Homo sapiens: one gene and its partners. The protein of the gene in region 1 interacts with the protein of each later gene in a pairwise test. Each region holds a gene or a part of one and is shown on either strand. Other genes may lie near its edges.

Region 1 (9,225 bases):
ACCCTGTACAGTTTCAGCTATTTTTGCTTCAAAATGAGCTTCCCCTTATTTTTTATAGTTGGCAGCTGAGCTATTGGAGGAATGAATATATTGGGGAAGAAAAGCTCAGGAAAGGGGAAGGATGGGGAGAGAAGTCTGACTGTCAGTGGAGAGTCTCTGGTTTTCCTTAGGGCACGGGGTGGGGGGACAGTAGACCAAGGAGTGGGCATACAGTAGCCCATGAGCAGTGAGGACTAGGGAAGGAGGAGCCACACCCACATGGGCAGGTTTCTGAGTCTCAGGCTCATTCCTGCCTCAGCCTCCCAAAGTGCTGGGATTACAGGTGTGAGCCACCGCACCCACACACTATTTTATTTATTTATTTCCTGGCTCCTAGAACTGAACACTTATTTTAAAAAATAACTTTATAGGACGGGCACGGTGGCTCACGCCTGTAATCCCAGCACTTTGGGAGGCTGAGGCAGGTGGATCACTTGAGGTCAGGAGTTCAAGACGAGCCTGACCAACATGGTGAATCCCCATCTCTACTAAAAATACAAAAATTAGCCAGGTGTGGCGGCGGGCACCTGTAATCCCAGCTTCTTAGAAGGCTGAGGCACGAGAATCACTTGAACCTGGGAGGCGGAGGTTGCAGCGAGCCGAGGTTGCACCACTGCACTCCAGCCTGGGCTAAAGTGAGACTCTGTCTTAAACCCAAACTTTAAAACTTTATAGCAACAAATAGCAGTTGAAGAGTTGTAAAGAGTCAAGTAAATGTTATAAACACAAAAAGAAATGCTCGAGCCAAGATTTTACAGAGTATCAAGCTTTATCTGCCATAATTTGGAGCACAATTTGCTTTATTCTTAAACAAGGAGTCTCAGAGTGGTAAAAAAAAAAAAAAAAAAAAAAAAATCTGCAAGAGAAAAACAAGTCTCCAAACACAGTGGAGGCAAAGCAGAGGGGGAATCTCTGGCTGTAGCACTCTTGCTTTTTAAACCACCACTGCCAAGACAGAAGCCACTTGTTTCAAACAGCAGCATCCATTCTATGTCATACCCCCTCACCTCCCTGCATTCTCAGGACCAGAGAAGAAGCTCAGCAACTCTGTAAGTTGGTGCCTCTATAAAAGATTTTTTTCATCTAAGTTGGGGCTGCTAGTCCTGGTCTTCTTTCCAGATTTGGATACCAAGTGTTTTCTGCTGAAAGTGTTAACTTGTATACTAATCGCATGTAGCCCTTAACAACCTGAAGGCATTAAAATCATAAAAAGCCTGAAATCCCAGAAAAGCATCATTTTCCTATTGCCATGCCCTCCTGCCATCTCATCCTTACTAGTTCTCAGTTGTGGGGGAGAACAAAGAGGCCTCTTAAAGGGAATCTGGTTATTGGAGGCACCTACCTTACAAAAAACTTGAAGTGAGGCTGAGGGGAGGAAGCTTTGCATTACTGCCCTGGGGACCACCACTCATAGAGATGTTGAGTAAACACATTCTGTGTGTGAAAAGCAGCCATTACATTAGGTCAGGAAACAGAGCCAGCCTCCTACCCCTGCTTTAGTCTGTACCTCCATTCTTCAGACAGGTGTTCAAGGGCAATCATGTAGCTATCACAACTAGAGTTTCTTGTCAACTGTGCTCGCTGCAACTCCACTTAGCTTTGGTGCTGCCTCCTCCTCATGCCCTGGCAGGTCTGCTCCTGCTACTATTCCCCACAGTCAAGAACTGCTTTGAGGCTAGGCACCGTGGCTCATGCCTGTAATCCCAGCACTTTGGGAGGCTGAGGCGGGTGGATCACCTGAGGTCGAGAGTCCGAGACCAGCCTGGACAACATGGTAAAACACCATCTCTACTAAAAATACAAAAATTAGCCAGCTACTTGGGAGGCTGAGGCAGGAAAATCACATGAATCCGGGAGGCGGAGGTTGCAGTAAGCCGAGATCGTGCCACTGCACTCCAGCCTGAGCAACAGAGCGATGCTCTGTCTCAAAAAACAAAAACAACAAAAACAAAAAACAACTGCTTTGAAAGGGATCAAAGTTGGGGACTGGGCCTTTTTTGAATAATCTCAAAACCTCATCCTAGGAAATGAATTACCCAAAGGGGCCCACAAGAGAGATCTTAATGTCAAAATATTCTGTAACAATGAGACCTGACCCACTGATCCAATACTTTAGGAAATAGCATGATGAGCAAGTGAAGGCATTGGTGCTTCACATCAGCTTCTCCCAGAGCAAAAATCTGAGATTAAAGAGGTCTAGAGGGTTAGAGGCGCACATTTCATAGTATACTTTAGTCCCTCCTGAATCACTTTTATCAAAGAGCTAGCTGTAAAATAGATATCCCGATATCCAACAAAAGCAAAAACAAAATAAACAAAAGTAGACCTGGGCTTCACAAATAAGGAAGCACTCTTCATGAAGCTCTGTAGCCATGTAGCTTCCCAAAGTAAAAGAGCACCCTTATTTGATGATGGGCCAAGAAACTCACTCACTTAAGGCCGCCATGGTGGCTCATGCCTGTAATCCGAGCACTCTGTGAGGCCAAGGTGGGCGGATCACTTGAGGCCAGGAGTTTGAGACCAGACTGAGCAACATGGCAAAACCCTGTCTCTACTAAAAATACAAAAATTAGCTAGGTGTGATGGTGCACACCTGTAATCCCAGATAACCTGTAATCCCTCTCGAGGCTGAGGCAGGAGAATCACTTGAATCCAGGAGGTGGAGGTTGCAGTGAGCCAAGATCGAGCCACTGCACTCCAGCCTGGGTGACAGAGCAAGAGAAAGATGAAAGACAGAAAGAAAGACAGACAGACAGACAGAGAGAGAAAGAGAAGGAAGGAAAGAAAAGAAAGAAATGAAGAAAGAGAGAGCTAAAGGGAAAGAAAGAAAGAGAAAAAAAAGGAAAGAAAGAAGGAAACTTAAAATTTTGGAATGCATAATAATTCATCCTTAAATTTTGCACATTTACCTTCTCAAAATAGTTCTTATTTAGCAGGGATGAAAGTAAATGCCCAGCCGGGCACCAGTGGCTCACACCTGTAATCCCAGCACTTTGGGAGGCTGAGGCGGGCAGATCACCTGAGGTCAGGAGTTCAAGACCAGCCTGACCAACATGGTGAAACCCTGTCTCTACTAAAAATATAAAATTAGCTGGGCATGGTGGCACATGCCTATAAATTCTAGCTACTCAGGAGGCTGAGCAGGAGAATTGCTTGAACCCGGGAGGCGGAGGTTGCAGTGAGCCAAGATTGCACCATTGCACTCCAGCCTGGGCAACAAGAGCGAAACTCCATCTCAAAAAAAAACCAAAAAATCAAAAAAAACAAAGAAAGTAAATGCCAAACGTATGTCAATTACTGATGAATGGAAGGAAATTATCACATTTGGCAAAATTAGTTCAAAATGAATAAATCACAGAAATTCTCCTCCCATAAGAAAATACCTAATTTGGATCTTCAGGAGTAAGAACCAGAGATCCACCAGACATTATACATGCTATAATTTAGGTATACTGCACAGAATTACACTCTTATCACATTCTCAGTAAACTCCAGACATCTTAGTCTTACAGTTGAATAAAACTGCTGCCAATGTCTTCTCTTGGTTTAACAATGAAGCTAACGTAGTTTGGAAACAAATAAGAGCTATCAATGGACAGCAAGACATCTATCTAAACCAAACCTTTAGCAGAGAGATCAGTACAGATTATGTATGATACAGACCCCAAATCACACAGGTACACACACTTTATTAGTTTCCTCTACAAGAGACAATAACATCAATCTTTTTTAACAGGAATCTCAGTTCATTTGAGAGGCCAAATAGATCCAAAGAAGGAAGATGAAAATTAAATACTTAAATTAATCAAAAGGCACTACGATACCACCTAAAACCTACTGCCTCAGTGGCAGTAGGCTAAGGAAGATCAAGCTACAGCACATCATCTAATATGAATGTTAGCAATTACATAGCAGGAAGCATGTTTGCTTTCCAGAAGACTATGGTACAATGTTCATTTGGGCCCAAGAGGATATTTGGCCAGGAAAGGATCAAGATAGATGAAGGTAAAGCCAAATCGAAAGGGATAGGTACAAAGGAGAATCCAAGCTACATAGTCAAGCAGATGGTGATGGATCAGGCTTCTTCCTCCCAAGAAACATTTGCTGCACTGTGCTGCCTCCCCCCTCAACCACCCCCCACCCCCCACCCAATGTCTGCTCAAGCTGAGCTGCCTGCTCCTGCCTTACAGGGTGCTCAGCTACCAGGACTAGGTTTGGGGTTGCCCAGGGCTCTTGCTATAATTTAGCATAGACCTTGGGGAGAACTGGTCACACATGGGTTGCCTTTGTTGCTAGTTGTTCTCAACAAAGAAAACCCTGAAGCATTCACATACAAAGTAGTCTGAGCTTCCCCAGTCACAGTCAAACACCCTCACACAACATCCTCAAAAGTCTGAAATCTTGCAGCAGCTGAGCTATAGTTAAAGCTGCAAGGCCCACAGAATTATCAAGGAAGCCAGAATGAGATAATGCAGGTAGGAGGTCCCAGCAGTTAATCTCAATCCGTCTTTCCCCAGTTCGGATAAGCTCTAATATACCTGATGTGGGATGTAGAAAGCTACACTGGAGCAAGCCGGGTCTTCTGCTGAATTTGTCATCAAATACCAAGGGGAAACAAGGGTGGGGTGGATTTTATTCTCAAAAAGCCTCAGAAGTTACTCTATTATAAAGGGACATGGCTGAATAGGTAAGAAACGGATTCTCCATTGTGAGTTCTCCTGATGGCTTCTGCAAGGATCATAGAGATGTCAATCACCTAGAAAGGCAAGAAAGGAAATCAGGTTACTATCATATGGTCAGAGATGACTGGCCAATTTGCAGACACTGATGAGCAGCCAGGCAAGTGCCCTTCCTCTTAAAACTGCAACACTGTGCTGTTTCCCTGTCATGAGGCTGCACTCAGCTATTCTTCATAACATTTTTAAGATAGCCACTTACGGCTGGGCACGGTGGCTCACACCTGTTAATCCCTGCACTTTGGGAGGCCAAGGTGGGCAGATCACTTGAGGCCAGGAGTTGGAGACCAGGCTGGCCAACATGATGAAACCCCGTCTCTACTAAAAATACAAAAATTAACCAAGCATGGTGTGGCACACGCCTGTAATCCCAGCTACTCGGGAGGCTGAGGCATGAGAATTGCTTGAACCTGGGAGGTGGAGGTTGCGGTGAGCCAAGATCGTGCCACTGCACTCCAGCCTGGGTGACAGAGCGAGACTCTGTCTCAAAACAACAAAACAAAACAAAACAGCCACTTAGGAAAGAGTCAAAATGCTAACTGAGAAAAAACGCTGACTTTGGTTCATCAAAATGGCTGGGCACTGTGGCTCACACCTGTAATCCCAGCACTTTGGGAGGCCAAGGTGGGAGGATCACTTGAGCCCAGGAGTTTGAGTCCAGCCTGGGCAATATGGTGAAACTCTGTCTCTACAATAAAACAAAAATTAGCCAGGCGTGGTTGTGGTGTATGCCTGTAGTCCCAGCTACTTGTGAGGCTAAGGCAGGAGGATCGCTTGAGCCTGGGAGTTTGAGGCTGCAGTGAGTCAAGATCAGGCCACTGCACTCCAGCTTAGGCAACAGAGTGAGACCCTGTCTAAAAAAAAATGGTGGTAGGTTCGCATTTAAAAATCCTTCTGAATAGGCTGGGCGTGGTGGCTCATGCCTGTAATCCCAGCAGTTTGGGAGGCCGAGGTGGACGGATCACCTGAGGTCAGGAGTTCAAGACCAGCCTGAGCAACATGGAGAAACCCCATCTCTACTAAAAATAAAAAATTAGTCAGGCGTGGTGGCACATGCCTGTAATCCCAGCTACTTGGGAGGCTGAGGCAGGAGACTCACTTGAACCTGGGAGGCTGAGGTTGCGGTGAGCTGAGATCGTGCCATTGCACTCCAGCCTAGGCAACAAGAGCAAAACTCCATCTCAAAAACAAAAAACAAACAAACAAAAAAACCTTATGAAGGAAAAAAAAAAGACTAAGTTGAAAAAAAATCCTTAAGAATGACATCACCTGTAATCTCAGCACTTTGGGAGGCTGACACAGGAGGATAGCTTGAGGCTAGGAGTTTGAGACCAGCCTGGGCAACATAGGGAGACCCCGTCTCTACACATAATATCAAAAAAATTAGCTGGGCATGGTGGTGCACGCCAGCCACTTGGGAGGCTGAGACAGGATGATTGCCTGAGCCTTCAAAGTTGAGGCTGCAGTGAGCTTTGATTGCGCACTCCGGCTGGGGCAACAGAGCAAGATCCTATCTCAAAAAAAAAAAAAAAAAAGATGATAATCCTCCAATTACACATATTAATTTCAAAAAGCTCATAGATTAATGTGAACATTTTTAATTAAGCAAGGCCTTGTTCTTTTAGTGCAAGAGCACTCAAACTTTAGTTTCTAACAATTACTTGGGGAATTACTTTAAAATACTGGTTCCAGGACCTCTGGTTTTATAGGTCTTAGATGGAGCAAAGGAATCTACATTTTAATAAGAACCTTAGGTCCAGAGCACACTGAGAAACACTAAAGTTGGTAGAAGTGTACAATCAGTTTAAAGGTTTCACATTATATCTACAGGGGCCGATAGTTAACAGACAAACACATACTGTAAAGTATGGACTTGAAAACTTTAATTTGCATCAGAATCACTGGGAGAACCTGTTAAAATGTAGAATCTTAGGCTCCATCTTCCAGAGATTCTGAGGTGTAGCAATTTAAACTTTTAAACAGGTGATTTTCCCAAGGCTTGGCAGTTTGAAAAGAAAAAAAAAAAGGAAAAGAAACAGGTGATTGTTAACTTTTGGATCACAAATTCTGATGACAAGACTAAATCCTTCAGACCAAAGAAAGATATCTTCAGAATCCAGAGACCTAATTCAACGTAAGTAACCACCTCCTAAACACTTAGAAAAGTCTTGTTTTGCACAAATCTCATCCTCACCTGTATTTTGGAGCAATGCTTCATCTTGTCCTCCTGAGGTATGGTATTGGTGACTACTACTGCCTCAAAGCATGCGTTGTTGATGCGAGAAATAGCAGGACCGGAGAAGATTCCATGAGTCAAGATGGCATAAACTCTGGTGGCGCCAGCTGAGAGAAGTCTAGAGGGAAAAAATGTTGATTTGGATTCATCTTACTTGTCATTGCAGAATTTTAGTCAGGGAGGAGTATATTAGCCTGCTTAGGCTTCCACAACAAAATATCATATGAAAAAAAATAAAAAAATAAAAAATATTATAAGGCACAGTGGGTTAGGGGAAAAATTTTTTTAAGGAAAAGAAAATACCATAGAATGGGTGGCTTAAATAACAGAAACAAATTTTTCACAGTTCTGGAGGCTTAAAGTCCAAGATCAAGGTGCAGACAAAGTAGGTGTCATGCTGAGGCCTCTTCTCTTGTAGGTGGCCACCACTTTGCTGTGTGCTCAGATGACCTCTTTGTGTGTGAGTGTGAGTGTGTGTGCACGCATGCGTGCGCATGGGGAAATGCTGGCCAGTTCTCCAGCATTCTCTTCTTATAAGGGCATTCATCCCATTGTAAGGGCTCTGCCCTAGTGACCTCATCTAATCCTAAATACGTGCCCCTCAAGGTAACTCCAAATACCATCACATTGGGGTTAGGCCTCAACATATATGAATTTGGGGAGGACACAATTCAGTCCATATCGAGAAAGAACTGCACTAAGAACTTATCTGAATAGGTCTGAATTAGTGTCAAAGGACTCTGGCATAGACTGTTGCACTTAACAAAATCCACTTCCTCTTCTTTCTGGGCACATAGCTGAACTACATTTCCCAGCCTCCCTCACATAGTTCAGTGTGGCCATGTGGCTTAATTCTGGCTATTAAAATGTGGGCAGACACAATGTACATCAGTTTTTGGTTGGACTTAACAAAAATCTTCCAGGGGTGATCCTCTGTGTTCTTTTCCTTTTCTGGCTGGCCAAAATTGAAATGTCTTCCAAGGTAATCTTGGAAACCCCATGTTAAAGATATAGCACCAAAGATTGAAAGAATCTGAGCTCCTAACTATTGCTTAGAAAAAATGAGTCCAACAAGAACACTTGCATTGGAGTGTGCCATGGACAAGAAGGAAACTATCATGTTAGGGAGTTGATCTGTTATAGCGACTAGTATTCCCGTACTTGTACAAGGATGAAATGGGTTTTATGAATGTTTACTCCAGGATCCCAAACCAAGAATCATTCACCCCAATTTTTTTTTAGCACCTATTATGTGCCAGGCACTGTGCAAGGCACAGACACAAGAAAGTTTAAAAAAACCATTCTCAGGGCTGGGTGCTGTGGCTCACAGCTGAAATCCCAGCACTTTGGGAGGCTGAGGTGGGAGAATTGCTTGAGCCCAGGAGTTCAAGGACAGCCTGGGCAACATAGTGGGACTCCTTCTCTACAAAAATAATAATAATAATAATAAATAATTACCCAAGTGTGGTGGCACTTGCCTGTAGTCCCAGCTACTCGGGAGTCTGAGACAGGAGGATTTCTTGAGCCCAAGATTTCAAGACTGCAGTGAGCCGTAATTGTACTACTACACTCCAGCCTGGGTAACAGAGTGAGACCATGTCTCAAAATAAAAATAAAAGTAAAAATACCATTCTAAGAAACAATGCTGCTCATAGTGGCTTGGATTGTTAGTAATGAGGGGCCACTTAAAATCTTAAAGAGTGATGGGATCGAGCCTCAGTTGCAGGAAGATTAGCAAGCATGGAGAGATGGAGTGGGGAGGTGAGAGAACGGTGACTGGCAATGGAGAACAGAGTGGGGAGGCAATTTAGAACACTGCAGGCAAGAGATGACAAGTAATATAAACATTAACCTATCACAGGATTAGAGTGAAAAAAAGAAGTAATAATGAACAAAAGTAGCAGCCGGTAAAACAGTCGAGAAGTAAGACCAAGGGTTCCGGCTTAGGTAAAATAAAAATATGAGCACACACACCTGTCTGCTCAGGATTTTTATTTTAACTCATTAAAACAAAAAACAATCGCATGTAGCATACTCAGGGTGATCAAAAAACTTTGATGATCAGGCGATGGTTGTCTAACATTGTGAATATAGTTAATGTCATGGAATTATACACTTAAAATAGTTAAAATGGCAAATTGTGTTATATGTAGCTTAGTACAATATAAATTTAAAAAATAAGAAAATCTGAAAAAAAAATAAGAGTACTCAACA
Region 2 (6,721 bases), on another chromosome or scaffold:
CATCAAGAATAAAACTCCAACACGTTTAAAGAAATTAAGATCCAGATAAATGGAAAGACATCCATGTTCATGGATTGGAAGACTGAATATTGGTAAGATGGCAATGCTGCCCAAATTAGTCTACATATTCAACAATTCCTATCAAAATCCTAGCTGTATTTTTTGCAGAAATTGACAAACTGGTAAAATTGGTAGGGAAACGCAGGGGACCCAGAATAGCCAAAAAACCTTGGAAAAGAACAAAGTTGGAAGACGTACCAATTTCAAAAAGTGCTACCAAGCTACAATAAGACAGTGTAGGCATATGGATAGACATATCGATCAGAGGAATGGAACTGAACATCCAGAAATAAACCCATACATTTCTGGTCAACTTGTTTTCAACAAGGATGCCAATACCATCAATAGAGAAGGAGTGGTCTTTTCAACAAACGGTGCTGGGACAACTAACTGGTAGCTACGTGCACAGCAAAAGGATCCCTACCTTCCTACCACATTACAAATTCTAACTCAAAATGGATCATAGACCTCAATATAAGAGTTTAAACTCTTAGAAGAAAACAGAAGTAAATCTTTGTGATGTTGGGCTTAGGAATGGTTTCTTAGACATAATACCAAAAGCACAAGCAACAAAGGCAAACAGTAGATAAATGGGACTTCATCAAAATTAACTTTAGCGCCTTAAAGGACACCATTAAGAAAGTGAAGTTAACCCTCAGAATGGGAGAAAAATTTTTGAAAAATCATGTATCTGATAAAAAAACAAACAAACATGCAGGTGCTCAGCTGTGGTTACCACCGAGCAGCACTGTCCAGTGAACTTGCTGTGATGATGGGATGCTTGGTATCCGCACTCCCAGTGTGATAGCCTTTAGCCTCATGGGGTTGTTGAGCAGTTGAAATAATAGCTAGTGTGAGGAACTGAACATAAAATTTTAGTTTTAGGATGGGTGTGGTGGCTCACGCCTATAATCTCAGCACTTTGGGAGGCCAATGAAGGCGGATCACTTGAGCCCAGGAGTTCAAGACCAGCTTGACCAAGATGGCAAAACCCTGTCTCTATTAAAAATACAAAAAAATTAGCTGGGCATGGTGGCACACACCTGTAATCCCAGCTACTAGGGAGGCTGAGGCAGGAGAATCGTACTTCCCCTTTATACTCTTCTGTATATTTGATTTTTTTTTTTTTAAGACAGAGTCCTGGCTCTGTCGCCCAGGCTGGAGTGCAGCGACATAGTCTCAGCTCACTGCAGCATCCGTGGAGGCTGAAACAGGAGAATCGCATGAATTTTTTAAAAAATCTAAACATGTAATTTTAAAACGGGCTTAAGAAGAATGATAACAGTTTTGGTCTTCTTTTTTATCAACCATGCTTTTATTTTACTTGAATCTCGTGCCAATTGCTTTGTAATATTAAAGTAGGATTTACACAAGTGGAATTTAGAAAAGATGATAATCTATCAAATCTGTCAATACCAATTAGAATGTAATAAAGAAATTAGGATAGTGGAGGTTTGAGCAAGTAAAGGCTCACCCAAATTCAAAGCCAATACTTGATGCTGAGAGGGGATATTTTCTGGAAGGTAATTTTTAAAAATTAAAGTCACAATTATAAATTGTATATTTCCTAATAAAAGAAATCTCAACTCATGGGACAATTTGAATTTAAAACACTATTGTTCCTCATTCAGTGATGAACAAGTCAAAACGTTTCAGAAAAGAAAGCCTTTAAAGAAGAATCCTGGCACAGAAAAGGTCCATTTAGACATTGCCTTCTTCCCCCATCTCTAATGCCTCTTTTCAAATCTCTGACTTGCACATGAAGTAACAGTGAGGTGTCCTGTGCAGCAGTCGCAATTTTTTGACTTGTCAAATTGAAGAAATTCAATTATGTAGCCAGAGCTTAGATCACTGACATGTATACTGGCATAAGCTTTTTTTTGTTTGTTTTTAATTTTATTAGAAGTGGGATCTCATTTTGTTGCCCATGCTGGTCTCAAACACCTGTCTTCAAGTGATCCTCCTGCCTCAGCAGCATCAGTTTAATATCTAGATAAAATCTGATGTATGTAATTTTACTTTTAAGGGTTTTTTTCCAAACAGACGTCCTGACAATGTTGTTTCCTATTCCTTGAACATTCACCTGACGCTTATATACTGTCATTACTTTTATCTGTCAACTGATGTCAGCTACTCAATTTACACATTACTTTTGTGCATTTCATCCTGTTTCTCAGTTTGACATTGTCATTCAAATTCAGAGTTTGACACTGAAACCCTGGGCATGGTGGCTCACACCTGTAATCCCAGCACTTCGGGAGACTGCGGTAAGCAGATCATTTGAACCCAGGAGTTTGAGACTAGCCTTGGCAACATGGTGAAACCCCATCTCTACCAAAAAAAAAAAAAAAAAAAAAGCAAAAACAAAAATTAACTGGGCATAGTTGCACACACCTGTAGTCCCAGCTACTCAGGAGGCTGAAGTGGGACGATCGCTTGAGCCCAGAAGGCAGAGGTTACGGTGAGTAGAGATTGTGCCACTGCACTCCAGCCTGGACGACAGGGCAAGACGCTGTCTCAAAAATAAAATATTAGTAAAGAAGAGTACAATCAGAATATGAAAATGTGTAAATGTGCATATTCTCTTTTTTTCTAATTTGGTAGCATTAAAAATACTTAAGCATCAAAGTTTGGCTTTATGAAGAAGGAGTCTGAGACACCTCAGGTTTCAGCCCTTACTAATAGCGTGGCTCAAAGAGCGTTAACTTGCCTGTGCTTCTGTTTCCTTATCTGTAAAATGGGGATGATGCTGTAACATCAAAGAGCTTATAATACTTTCCAGAGCTGGCAGTACTAAATAAGACCATTCCTCTAAAGTGCCAGCATTTTGAAAAGCATCAACCCATCAACCTTGTGCTTTAAATCTGGCATTCTTAAAGCTATACCTGTAGGCAGTATAGAGTGTTTTTTTTTATTTGTTTTTTTGTTGTTGTCTTTTGAGTCTCACTCTGTCTCCCAGGCTGTAGTGCAGTGGCACGTCTTGGTTCGCCGCAACCTCCGCCTCCCAGGTTCAAGCGATTCTCGTGCCTCAGCCCCCCGCATAGCTGGCATTACAGGCACACACCACCACGCCCAGCTAATTTTTGTAGTTTTAGTAGTATCTACTAAAATAAACAGGGTTTCACCATGTTGGCCAGGCTGGTCTCAAACTCCTGACCTCAAGTGATCTGCCTGCCTCGGCCTCCCAAAGTGCTGGGATTACAGGCGTGAGTCACCATGCCCGGCCGGCAGTGTATATCTTCTAAAGTTGCAATTTTTGTTCACTCCAGAATCACTTTTCAAAAAGCATGCAGATTTAATGCCACCAGTTTGTGTTATGTATCTATCCCGCAAAACAGCTCTAAAGGTGATTTACTAAAAGATTAACAGCATTTATCTCTGGTGGGATAATTTTTCTTTGCTTGTTTACCTGTGTCTTGCAGATTTTACACAGTGAACAATGACTGTATAATTTTAAAATACAGATATGCACAATTGTGTAATGTAAATATGCTCAGCTTCAATACATTTAAGAACACATTTTTAACTTTTCGTAAGGAGTCTTCAGTTTAAAAGTACAGTGTCATTACAGAGTGCTTATTCTGTTACAAAATTAGTAAAGCTGATTCTGCCTCTAAATCTGAAGTAATTCCCACTTTTTTTCATGCTTGAGTTTAGTTGATAAATAGCATTTTAGATACTAAAAATGATTGGATGAGTATTTCTACATTAATAAGTTGCTAATTAGGCACCAGGGTAGCAGATAGAATGCCTTTCTGTGTGCTAGGTTTAAACATTTTACACACAGTCTTATTTAAAACAGCCTTGCAGTTTATAGATGAACTGATTGTTAGGCTAACCAGAGGTGTTACTATACCCTCCAGGATAACCCAGCTAGTAAGGGCAGAGCCAGGATGATTCAGACCCAGACCAGAGCCGGGTGTTTTGTCCACAGTACTGCTGCTGCTTATACCGTAACGGGAAAAGTACACAACAGTGTCTTAATATTTCATTCTTCCATGAAAAACACTTTTAAAATATTGAAACATTATAGGAGCAGAAGTACATCTCTAAATATACTTTTAGGTCACATTGAAAACATTTCCAAAGGATTTGACCTGAAGTTAATGTTGCTACATTATGCTCAATACAGCAGGCTGTTCTGCTAGGGAAATTGTTAATATTTTAAAAATATTTTCCTAAGCTTTAGCTTTACCACTTCCAAGTCTGTACAGACTGGTTATTTCTACATTACAAAGACAGTGACTCCCTCAAAGGCTGACAGTTTTTATAGTCTGTGTTTATAACATACACATCTATTCTTGCCAGATGTGGGTTCCTACATTGCCATCTAACCTCAGCATCCTTTATGTTATGCTCCAACTTGGGTAAGCGGCTTTGTTTCCTTCCCAATCTCCTGGTCAGACAGTTGACCTCACATCTTTGTCTAGTGGTTTTCAAACGTCAGAGTAGCCCCTTGTTGGAGCGGCAGCCTTGGGGTTCCCCACTGTTTTCCACATTGCCTTTCCAAGTAAGCTTTGGTCTGCGTTAAACCCCGCTGTTTGCTTTGATATTCTCCCCCCACACAGCCGTACCCCACACCAGCTGGGCGCCTTTGGGAGACCGCAGCCCTTAGAAAAGGGGAAGAAAAGCCTCCTGACTGCACAGTGAGGGCTGGAGGCGTCTGGCCTGGAGGGAGTCCAGGCCACTGGACTCCACACTGTCAGCCAGTGTGAGCTGCTGGTGACAGGGAAAGGCCATGTGAGCAGGTCCTGACCTGCAGTTCGGGCCCCTGGAGCAAACAGCACCAAACTTGGCCCCCAGATCAGCTTTGTCATTCAAGATGTGGCTTGCTAGCAGGTGTTATTAACAAGGCGAAGCACCATGTGGTATCTTCCCATTGGAATCAGTTGTTATTGCTAACTAGGTATTAAGTGTCTGAAAACCTGATTTTGTACTTTGGCATCACCTGGCCCAGTTATAGCTTTGTGGGGGATACAGTTTCAAGGTGTGCAGTGGCACTCTCACCTGCAAGGGAGAAGTGTGCTTGTTGGGGGAAGGTCAGATAGGGGGTACACAGGGCTGGCATGCTAAGACACGCTCTTCCTGGAAGTATACGTGCAGAAAGCCACATCATAGTCCAAGGCTTTATGAGCACAAAAGGAACACGGGGTGGGGCGGGGAGGGGATCGTCTAGATGAACCTGATGGTTAATGACAGCAGGCTAAGATGAGCCAAATGTCCCTCTCATTGGCCAGCCTTGCCAGTGAGGCTGAATGCTTCCAAGCTAAGAGTCTCTCTGTCCTGGACAGCACTTACAGGACCCTGCCAATGTCTGCTGCCCGAGGTGCTTTCTGACAGTTTGCTGTAGCTACAATAATCCATTTACTCAGCTCGCAGACTTGCCTTGGAGCCATTCTAGCTGTGTAAGCTGACTTCACACCCAGGCCTGACCCACGATGTGACTCGCAAAATTACCTTTTCCGGCATTTTCGTGTCCTGGCCCCTTGTTAGCAGCACGTGACCAACACTGGCCACCAAGGCCCAAGCTAGACTGGCCAACAGAGAGTGGAGGGCTGAGGGCTGAGGAGACCACAACCATTATTAGATAGGATTGATTCTGCCTGTAGACTGAAAAGAACATCACCAAATGATGTCGAGAAGGAGGATAAGGAAGACCATTCCATGATGCTCTGCTCGGCCGAGCTACCCTGGAGGCAGGCCCCTGCTGAGGAGAGGCAGGAGAAGGGATGTCTTCAGGTGAGCCAATGGGAGCAGCTGGCTTTCAAAATGCCACTTAAAAGGGAGGCTGGCTATTGGCCTACACTGCACAGAAGCTTCCTGACCAGATGCCACAGGGCCTGGGGTCACCAGTAAGCCTAGAGCTGAGACTCCCTGAGCCCATCTCCAAATACATAATCCGAGTGGGGCTGTGAGAGGACAGTGGGGCAGTGCGGGACCTACTCCTGGAGGACTCACCCGCTCCCCAAAGGGTATGTGATCCATGCCCCAGGCCAGTGCTGCTGGCTGAATGTGAGGAAGCTTGGACTCCATTCCTCAGGAGCCCAGGCACTTCAGCAGGAAGGCTGGGGACCTCTGGGGCCAGCACTAGGGGCAGAGCAACAGACGAGACTAGAGGGCAGAGGGCACGTGGGAGCTAAGCCTGGGGAGATGGACACCAATGCTCAGGTGAGCGGCCCTAGCTGGCAGCACTTTGTGTGTTTCGGCACGCATCGTTGCTGGGAGGAGTAAGCACTGGCCGTGCAACTCCACCAGGGGAGGATGATGGAGGGGGTGCCTGGTCTCTCCTGGCCTCTGTGCACGTGGCTCTTCCCTTGCTGATTGGAGTCAATGCCTTTCACTGTGATAAACCATAACCATGAGTGTTATGGCTTCTCTGAGTTCTGAGTTGTTCTCGTGAATTAATGAACCTGATCTTCCAGTGGAATGGGGTGGGCGGGAACCAGATTGGCTCGTGATGGCCTGTGATGTCCTAGAATAGCCAGGTCACAGGTGGGACTTCTCATTCAGGGAAGGTGATGAGCCCACAAAGCTGGGTCCAACCCAAAGGCTTCAGGGGCAAGTCTGCCACCCCAGCCAGCATTGGGTTTCTCCAAGTCCCTCTCCTTTCGGGGCTGTGTTATTTACCAATTCCTAAAGGGGACCTCAGAGACTAGCTCAC
Region 3 (10,208 bases), on another chromosome or scaffold:
TTTGAGACAGAGACTCCCTCTGTAGCCCAGACTGGAGTGCAATGGCGCGGTCTTAGCTCACTGCAACCTCCGCCTCCCAGGTTCAAACAATTGTCCTGTCTCAGCCTCCTGAGTGGCTGGGACTACAGGCGCCTGCCAGCACGCCTGGCTAATTTTTGTATTTTTAGTAGAGAAGGGGTTTCACTATGTTGGCCAGGCTGATGTCGAACTCCTGACTTCATGATCTGCCCACCTCGGCCTCCCAAAGTGCTGGGATTATAGGCGTGAGCCACCGCGCCAGGCCGGTACTTGATATATTAGTCATTTTGGATTTTTTTTTGGTGGGGGGACAATACTTAATGTGGAAACTGAGTCTTTAGTGTTTGGTAAGAGAGAATGTTGATTATTTTTTTTTTTTAGACAGGGTTTCACTGTCACCCAGGTTGGAGTGCAGTGGTGTGAGCTCGGCTCACTGCAACCCCTGCTTTCTGTGCTCAAGCGATTTTCCCACTTCAGCCTCCTGAGTACAGTGGTGCCACCATACCAGGCTAATTTTTAGGGTTTTTTTTTTTTTTTTGGTAGTTTATGAGATGGGGTCTTGCTATGTTGCCCAGGCTGGTCTTGAACTCCTGGACTCAAGCAATTTGTTGGACTCAGGCTCCCAAAATTTTGGGATTACAAGAGTGAGCCACCGCACCTGGCCATGGTGAATGTTTAGATGTCAACATTTTTTTTTTTTGAGACAGAGTTTTGCTCTTGTTTCCCAAGCTGGAGTGCAATGGCGTGATCTTGGCTCACTGCAACCTCTGCCTCCTGGGTTCAAGCGATTCTTCTGCCTCAGCCTCCCGAGTAGCTGGGATTACAGGCACCCACTACCACGCCTGGCTAATTTTTAGTATTTTTAGTAGAAACGGGGTTTCACTATGTTGGCCAGGCTGGTCTCAAACTCTTGACCTAAGGTGATCTGCCTGCCTCGGCCTCCCAAAGTGCTTGAATTACAGGTGTGAGCCACCACGCCCAGCCTAGATGTCAATATTTTGTCAAGCATTGTCAGGTTCATTTTATGGAATGATGCTTGATTGGAAATGGACATTTATGTGCTACAACAGTAGTATGAAGTATGATTTGGGTTCTCATGGATGGCACATAAGCTCAATATGTTGTAAATATTTTTTACGAAATCCCTTAACATGATCTCAGTGCCTTCTATTGCAGTATATGTACCTGAAACATTTTGTACACAAATTGTGATTAAGTAATTTTCCACCGGTAGGTTATCATAGTAGGCACTTGGCTGTGGCAGAAATTTGTAATCAATCAGGCTCTTAAAGTCTCTCCTTTTTTGGGCCAAATTTGTGGTAAGCCAAGACTAGATAGATCTTTTCCCGGTGGTTTCATAATCACTTTAATGTATTGCATTACTGTTCTTAGCTGAAATTTCTAAGGATGTTTTTCTGTCAGGAAATTTAATAAGGAATATTTAATATACATAGATGTTGATTTTGCAAATAGTTTTATACTAGATTTATGATTGGTAAGAGGAAATTAGAGTAGAATAGTTGTTTAGCCTCTTTTGTAACACTTGTGCAACTTTAGTTTCAACTTCTTGCTGAGGTAATTCTAGCTAATAGATTTCTTTTTATTAGCTTATTATAAAAGTAATACTTGCTCATGTGAAAATTGTAATTGACATAAAATTTGAAAATATTGCCTTCCTTCCTCATTATTCTACTGTGTATATTCTTCCTAAATTAAAGGCTTTTAATTGAAATCTTAGAAAAATATAAAAATGTGATTGTGTTGATGTTGAAATGAAAAGGGGCCTGCTTACTAGAAGGGGAAGGAAATTACATTTTTAATGGTTTTTTTTTTTTGAGACAGAGTTTCGCTCTTATTGCCCAGGCTGGAGTGCAATGGCACGATCTCAGCTCACCACAACCTCTGCTTCCCAGGTTCAAGCAATTCTCTGGCCTCAGCCTCCCGAGTAGCTGGGATTACAGGCAGGCGCCACCACACCCAGCTAATTTTGTATTTTTAGTAGAGACAAGGTTTCTCCATGTTGGTCAGCTGGTCTTGAATTCCCAACCTCAGGTGATCTGCCTGCCTCAGCCTCCCAAAGTGCTGGGATTACAGGCATGATCCACCACACCTGGCCAATAGTTTTTTTTGTTTTGTTTTGTTTTGTTTTTAAGAAATGAAGCTTAATATAATTTGTTAAGAATATTTTGTTTTCCTTTTGTATTAAAATCTATCATAATAGGACTGTGGTTGTATGATTTCATAGTTGATGCATCATTTATAGAATATTTCAGATTGTAATGGTAGATTTCTTATGTCATGGCTTATATTATAACCACTCTTAAGTAACTTAGAACAGTGACTAAAACTTGAGCATGCTTCAAAATCTCCTGAATCACCTGGAGAGCTTTTCAAAATACAGATTGCCGGAGCTTGAGAATTTGTATTTCTAACAGATTTGTAAGTGGTGCCACTGCTGGTCCAGGGACCACATTTTGAGAACCAGTGACATGGAGAATTGAAAATTATAAGGTTGAATTCTGCCAGCATATCAGCTAAATCAGTTTTATGCTTTAGAATAATGTTTTAGAAAAAGTCTATAGCAGTCTTGCCCTATAGAGTGCTTGGTGATGTTCTCTATATTGTCCAGTGTGGTAGCTACTAGCTACATGTGGCATTTAACATTTGAAATGTGGACAACTGAAGAACCGAAATTCAATTTTTTAAAAAATTAACTTAATGAAATAACCACATGTATCCAGTAGTTACCATATTGGACAGCACAGGTCTCTAGAAATGAAAAAATACAATTATTTTATGATTATGGACTGGTAATGTGCTCGTGAAACAAATTAGCTTAATTTGAAACCGTGAGCCTGCTTAATCCAGGGAATGTGACTATTTAAATAATGTTTATATTAGAGTTTACTTCCTACTCGTATTGAGATAATTTCAAGCCATGGTAAAATTTAGGAAGATAGCCAGAGTAGGTGAGGTGATGTTCTGGAGCAGGGGTATTTAAACCAGAGGGTTTGTGGGATGTTAACTTAATGGATAGGCTTCAAATGCTATAGAGTAGTCCCTCCCTTATCCCATGGTTTTGCTTTCTGAAGTTTCAGTTACCCCAAGTCAACTGAGGTCTGAAAATATTAAATGGGAAATTCCTGAAACAAGCAATTCATAAGTTTTAAATTGTGTGCTGTTTTGAGTAGCGTGAGGAACTCTCTGGACGTCCCACTTGATCCTGCCCGTGACATGAATCATCCCTTTGTTCAGCATATCTATGCTGTCTACACCTGCCCGTTTGTCACTTAGTAGCCTATTTGGTTAGCAGTGACTGTCATAGTATCACAGGGCTTGTGTCCAAATAATCCTTATTTTACTTAATAATGGACCCAAAGTGCAAGAATAATGGTGCTGGCATGTAATGATACTTGTTCTATTTTATTCATTATTTTTGTTAATTTCTTAATTGTGCCTAATTTATAAACTAAACTTTATTATAGGTATGTTACGTATAGGAAGAAAACAACATACAGATGGTCCCTGACTTAACAGTGGTTTGACTTACAAGTTTTTTACTTTACTGGATGTAAACCTGTCATAATAAACCTGTTATAAGTTAAGGAAGGCCGAGTGCGGTGGCTCACACCTGTAATCTCAGAACTTTGGGAGGCTGAGTCAGGAGGATCGCTTCAGTCCAGGAGTTTGAGACCAGCCTAGGCAACATAGTGAAAATAACATTTGTCATTTTCTCTACAAAAAATAAACAAAATTAGCTGGGCATTATGGTGCATGCCTGTAGTCTCAGCTACATGAGCTACGTGGGAGGCTGAGATGGGAGGATCACTTGAGCCCGAGAGGTTGAGGGTGCAGTAAGCCAAGATCATGCCACTGCACTCGAGCCTGGGTGATGGAGCAATACTTTGTCTCAAAAAAAAAAAAATGTTGAGTATCTGTATGGGCTGTATGGGCTTTGGTATTGTATGCGGTTTCAGGCATCTATTAAGGGTCTTGGACCGTATTTCCTGTGGGTAAAGGGAAACTACTGTACTGACCACTGAAAGCAATTGTTCTTTTATCTATTTTTATTTGTAAAAATAATTCAGTCCATTCCCCTAATGATCAATTGTTTCTACTTATGTTTCTTTTGCATTCTTGATTTTGTCATTTTACATATATAATGTTTATGGAATTTGTCATTTAGTCAGCTGATATTTTAGTGCTTTCTATATGACAGGCACTGGGGATACAGCAGTGAACAAAACAAACATCCACTCCCTCTTGTAGCTTCTAATGGGAGCAGCCAAGTATAGTATGTCACATGATAAGTGACAAAGTAGGGAGGGAGGACAGAGTGTGTGGGGCAGTAGGTTTATAGTTGTAGAGAAGGCCTCAGTAAGGTATCATTAGACCAAAGATTTGCTGGAGGAGTAGACACATATCACGCAGGTAGACTTGGGATAAGCATTCCAGGCAGAAGAAATAGCGAATTCCAGATTTGGATTTAGGATCTGGGAGAAAAGATTGGAGGCAAGGATCCAACACCAAGGTTTTAGGCCTTGGCAACTGGAATGATTTGCCATTTTCTAAATTGGAAATGGTGAGTGAGTGAGCAGCCACGTTTATTCTGTGAGGAGGGGACTGTGGGAGATCAGATTATTTTGAGGAATGCTTTTCTTATAAGACATTTAAGTCGAGATTTTTAGTAGGCATTTGAATATGCAAGAATTATGATTTGTAGTTTTTATATCCTAAAAGCATTTACTTTTGTAAATAATGAAATTATTTTCTATCTACAGCACCAGTTCTTAGCCACTAGTAGGTGTTGCTAGTAGAAAAGAGCATTTATTCTTTCCCTTTTTTTTTTTTTGAGACAGAGCCTCTTTCTGTCGCCCAAGCTGGAGTGCCGTGGCGTGATCTTAGCTCACTGCAACCTCTGTTTCCTGGGTTCAAGCGACTCCTCCATCTCAGCCTCCCGAGTAACTGGGACTACAGATGCACACCACCATGACTGGCTTTTTTTTTTTTTTTTTTTTTTTTTTTTTTTTGGTAGAGACGGGGTTTTGTCATGTTGCCCAGGCAGGTCTCAAACCCCTGGGCTCAAGTGATCCACCCGCCTCAGTCTCCAATATTGCTGGGATTATAGGCATGAGCCCCTGCGCCCAGCCAGCATTTACTCTTAATATTCCACTACTTTTGTATGCACATGGGAAAAATAGAACCAGCTGGTAAAATCCTAAGAAATTGGAGCCTCAAAGTCCAGAGGCCTTCTCATTTTGACTTATTTCAAACCAGTCTTATGGATAGGTACTAGTAAGTAAACTTGAAATCCTATGTATATATTTAAATTTAAATTATATAAAAATAAATAAAATTGGCCGGGCGTGGTGGGTCATGCCTGTAATCCTAGCACTTTGGGAGGCCGAGGTGGGTGGATCACCTGAGGTCAGGGGTACCAGACCAGCCTGGCCAACAATGCGAAAACCCGTCTCTACTAAAAATACAAAAATTAGCTGGGCATGGTGACAGGAGCCTATAATCCCAGCTACTCGGAGGCTGAAGCAGGAGAATCGCTTGAACCCGGGGAGTGGAGTTTGCAGTGACCTGAGATCGCTCCATTGTACCCCAGCCTGGGTGAAAAAGCGAAACTGCCTCAAAATAAATACATAAATAAATAAAATTAAAAATTTATATCTTTAGTCATATTAGCCACATTTCAAGAGCTCAGTAGCCACATGGAGCTAGTGCCCACCCTGTTGGACAGTGCAGATAGAGAATAGATCTGCCATCACTGAAGGTTCTTTTGGATTGCAGTAGATCTTGATGCTTGGCTGTATTACATTCTGGTTAATGAGATCTTAGGCTGTAGGAGGGGAAAGATTCGATTGTGCTGTTACAAAAATATTTTTATTAATATTATATTTAGCTTTGGTTAAATGCTTTCAGGGTGGCAGTGTAAAACTAAAGATTATTGGATAAGAGTGATGAAGATAACAAGAGGATCAGCATCTTACATGGTGCTTTGAAGGGATGGAGGTGGTTTGGTTTAGCAAAACCTTTAGGGAGCAGTGGTGTTTAAATTTGAAGAAATGTCATGTAGTAGAGGGTCAAACCAGGACAAATGGGAGGCAGATTTTGGCTCATTATAAGTAAGTATTCACAAAGCTATCCTAACAATCAAAAAGTTGGCTTTGAAAAAGTGTTTTCTGTCACCAAATATGTTGAAGCAAAGAATGGTTGACCATTTCACTGTAAGGGATATTGTAGAAGGGATTTTGTCATCAGATTTGAATGTACACTAGATCTCTAAGGACCCTTCCAAATCCAAGATTCTGTGATTTTTTTCCCCAGTGGTCCCTTGTACCTAGATTTTATGATTTAAAAAATATTTTATTTTATTTTTTGAGACAGAGTCTCACTCTGTTGCCTAAGCTGGAATGCAGTGGTGTGATCTTGGCTCACTGCAACCTCTGCCTCTCCGGTTTAAGTGATTCTCGTGTCTTAGCCTCCCGAGTAGCTGGGACTTACAGGCACGTGCCACCATACCCAGCTAATTTTTGTACTTTTAGTAGAGATGGGGTTTCACCATGTTGGCCAGGATGGCCTCAAACTCCTGACCTCAAGTGATCCACCCGACTTGGCCTCCCAAAGTGCTAGGATTACAGGAGTGAGCCACTGCGCCCAACCAATTTTTTTTTTCTTTCTTTCTTTCTTTTTTTTTTTTTTTTTTCTGAGACAGAGTCTTGCTCTGTCGTCCAGGCTGGAGTGCAGTGGCGCAACCTCAGCTCACTGCAACCTCCGCCTCCCCGGTTCAAGCAATTCTCCTGCCTCAGCCTCCTGAGTAGCTAGGATTACAGGCATATGCTACCACGCCTGGCTAATTTTTGTATTTTTTAGTAGAGGCGAGGTTTCACCATGTTGGCCAGGCTGGTCTCAAACTCCTGACTTTGTGATCTGCCCACCTCGGCCTCCCAAAGTGCTGGGATTACAAGCATTAGCCACTGCACCTGGCCCAATTTTTTTCTTTTTTTTAATAGTGTTATGGATTGCATGAAATTACTTGTGGAGTGTATGTGTTTTAGTAGCCAGCTACAGAAGTTTAACATTAACTTCTAATGTTACCTGCATTTTAGGTTTTGTATAACATTGTAGTTTGTTAGAGATGTAAAGGAATCCAAGGAACATATCCTTTGAGAAATAACATCTAAATACTATGTATCAATTAAAAGTTATTAAGGTATAGTGAAAGATCCATTTTATTTTTTTTCCCCATTGATTGGCAGAGGAAGGTACATATTTTAAAATAATCTCTGGTACTTAGAGAATATGCTTTACCGTAACTTGCCATCACATAAAATTCTTCCTTAATTATATTGTGAATTTTTTTTTTCTTTTTTGAGACGGAGTTTTGCTCTTGTTGCCCAGGCTAGAGTGCAATGGCGCGATCTCGGCTCACGACAACCTCCACCTTGTGGGTTCAAGTGATTCTCCTACCTCAGCCTCCCGAATAGCTGGGATTACAGGCACATGCCACCATGCCCAGCTAGTTTTTGTATTTTTAGTAGAGACAGGGTTTCACCAAGTTGGCCAGGATGGTCTCAATCTCTTGACCTCGTGATCTGCCCGGCTCGGCCTCCCAAAGTGCTGGGATTACAGGCGTGAGCCACCGCGCCCGGCCATGTTGTGAATTTAAAACTAATTCCTTTCACATTTTTTCAGTACAGAAAGTACCTGGGAGTGTCTCAGCCTCTACTTAGCATCTATCATGCCTAATCATTCTGAATGGGAAGAAAAAGGTGAAAGTTTTGTTAATTTCTTATTGTTTTTCCAGACATGTTGATAGCAGAGAAGAAATGTGGGGTAGATGGTTAACAGCTATCCAAGTCTTATAAACTAATATAATAAGGTAATATTTCTTTTATTTAGATGTAACCTTGTAACAAGCTTAGAAAGTTTCTATATGACTTGAAATCTATCTGCAGCTTATTTTCTTTCTTTCTTTCTTTCTTTTTTTTGAGATGGAGTTTTGTTCTTGTTGCCCGGGCTGGAGTGCAATGGCGGGATCTCAGCTCACTGCAACCTCCGCCTCCCTTGTTCAAGTGATTCTCCTGCTTCAGCCTCCCAAGTAGCAGAGATTACGGGCACCTGCCACCACATCTGGCTAATTTTTGTATTTTTAGTAGAGACGGGGTTTCACCATATTGGCCAGGCTGGTCTCAAACTCCTGACCTCAGGTGATCCACCCACCTCGGCCTCCCAAAGTGCTGGGATTACAGGCGTGAGCCACTGCGCCCGGCCTATTTTCTTACCTGTATTTTCAGTGCTTATACCAACACAGGCCCTCTTTATTTTTTTATTTCTGCCAGAGTTTTCAGCATTTTAGATCATATATCTTAGAATAATCACTGATTCTTTCAGACTGTCATCAGATTAACTCAGCAGTTCTTACAAATGCCTTTCATAGCCATCCCTTTCACCATATTTTCATTGATACCATCCCAGCCCAGGTTCGTAGTTGAAACTTACGAGTAACATACCTGGTGTCTGATTGGTTGTCATACTTTTCATTTTCCCTCCTTTCAGATCCAATCCATTCTACACATTATACTGATTTTTTCCTAGTGTACTGATTTCTGTTATGTCACTTTGCTGCTTAGGCTTCTTAATGCTTACTGTATCAGGTGTAAACACCTTTTGCTTACCTTTCCAGGCCTTTTTAGAGTCTTATATAGCTTACTCCCATGCTCCAACTCCAATCCTGTTCTGCAGGCTGGTCTTATTTGCCTCTTCATATGCCTTGTGCATGAGGGTACATTGTTCAGTTGCTATAAAAAAAGACCAAACCACAATACCTTAAACAAAATAAGTTTCTCTCTCCCATAGCAGTCCAAACAGTTCAAGACTAATATGGTGGTTCCATGGTGCTGAAGACCTAGACTCCTCTCTTGTTGCTCTGCTCTTTCCCTCATCTACAAGGTTAAAGATAGTTTACCTTCACCATTTCCCTCTTCCAGCCAATGGGGAGGTAAGCAGGAGAAAAAGGAAAACACCCATTCCTTTTAAGAGCATGATCTGGGCCAGGTGTAGTGGCTCATGCCTGTAATCCCAGCACTTTGGGAGGTCGAGGTGGGCGGATCACGAGGTCAGGAGATCGAGACCATCTTGGCTAACACTGTGAAACCCTGTCTCTACTAAAAATACAAAAAATAGCTGGGCATGGTGGTGCATGCCTATAGTCCCAGCTACTTGGGAGGCTGAGGCAGGACAATCGCTTGAACCAGGGAGTCGGAGGTTGCAGTGAGCCAAGATCGTACCACTGCACTCCAGCCTGGCACAGAGCAAGACTCCGTCTCAAAAAACAAACAAAACAAAAAGAGCATGTTCTGGAAGTTGTATCCATAATTTCTACGTATGTTCCATTGACAAGAACTTAATTGTAAGAGTTCACATAATCACAGGGAGACTAATTGGGAATGCACCCAAATAATTCTATCACTATATACTGGATTATAGAGGATGCAGGTAAAAAAGTGTGTGTGTGTGTGTGTGTGTGTGTGTATACACACATATATAAAACTGATATAACTATATGAAGGAAGGGGATAGGTTTGTGTTGTGTAAATACTCATCCATCTTGGCAGGAGGTCAGCAGATGATGTCTAAAGTAGATAAAACATGAAATACACACACACACACACATAAAATTTTATCACTATGAAAGTAAAGCAGTCCTTGCTGTATCTTGCTAATTGTAAGGGTGATGTGTGTGTGTGTGTGTGTGTGTACATATATATATACACATACATACTATCTATGATAGGAGAATTGAGAATATTAATTTTTAATCAAGTAATATATGTACATATTTAAAAGATACAGAATAAGATGAGCTTATAATGAAAAACAACATTCTTCGCCATTCCCAGACTCATTGCTTAGAGTGAACCACTTTTAACTGTTTTTGGTTCTTGTGATTATCTTCATATCTCTAAATCATATGCTTAAACTGATGTTTCATGTTTTATCTACTTTAGACATCATCTGCTGACCTCCTGCCAAGATGGATGAGTATTTACACAATACAAACCTATCCCCTTCCTTCATATAGTTATATCATAGTTTTTGGTTCCTCTTTTGTGGTTACCTTTGTAACTTTAAGTAATAGACTTTAACCTCTGTTTCTTGTTCCATAATTTATAAACTGACAC

The links. The genes of interacting proteins can lie anywhere in the genome.
Region 2: the proteins of PRPS1 (region 1) and MALT1 interact in binary tests that used the Homo sapiens proteins (3 or more experiments, as listed by UniProt).
Region 3: the proteins of PRPS1 (region 1) and PCMT1 interact in binary tests that used the Homo sapiens proteins (3 or more experiments, as listed by UniProt).

The regions. Positions count from the first base shown.
Region 1 is NC_000023.11:107,645,510-107,654,734, reverse strand, and holds the end of PRPS1 (ribose-phosphate pyrophosphokinase 1), read right to left. Parts: intron 7,130-9,225; coding exon 6,970-7,129; intron 4,796-6,969; coding exon 4,703-4,795; 3' UTR 3,709-4,702; downstream 1-3,708. UniProt on the Homo sapiens protein: Catalyzes the synthesis of phosphoribosylpyrophosphate (PRPP) that is essential for nucleotide synthesis.
Region 2 is NC_000018.10:58,750,221-58,756,941, forward strand, and holds the end of MALT1 (mucosa-associated lymphoid tissue lymphoma translocation protein 1), read left to right. Parts: 3' UTR 1-4,257; downstream 4,258-6,721. UniProt on the Homo sapiens protein: Protease that enhances BCL10-induced activation: acts via formation of CBM complexes that channel adaptive and innate immune signaling downstream of CARD domain-containing proteins (CARD9, CARD11 and CARD14) to activate NF-kappa-B and MAP kinase p38 pathways which stimulate expression of genes encoding pro-inflammatory cytokines and chemokines.
Region 3 is NC_000006.12:149,751,497-149,761,704, forward strand, and holds part of PCMT1 (protein-L-isoaspartate(D-aspartate) O-methyltransferase), read left to right. Parts: intron 1-10,208. UniProt on the Homo sapiens protein: Initiates the repair of damaged proteins by catalyzing methyl esterification of L-isoaspartyl and D-aspartyl residues produced by spontaneous isomerization and racemization of L-aspartyl and L-asparaginyl residues in aging peptides and proteins.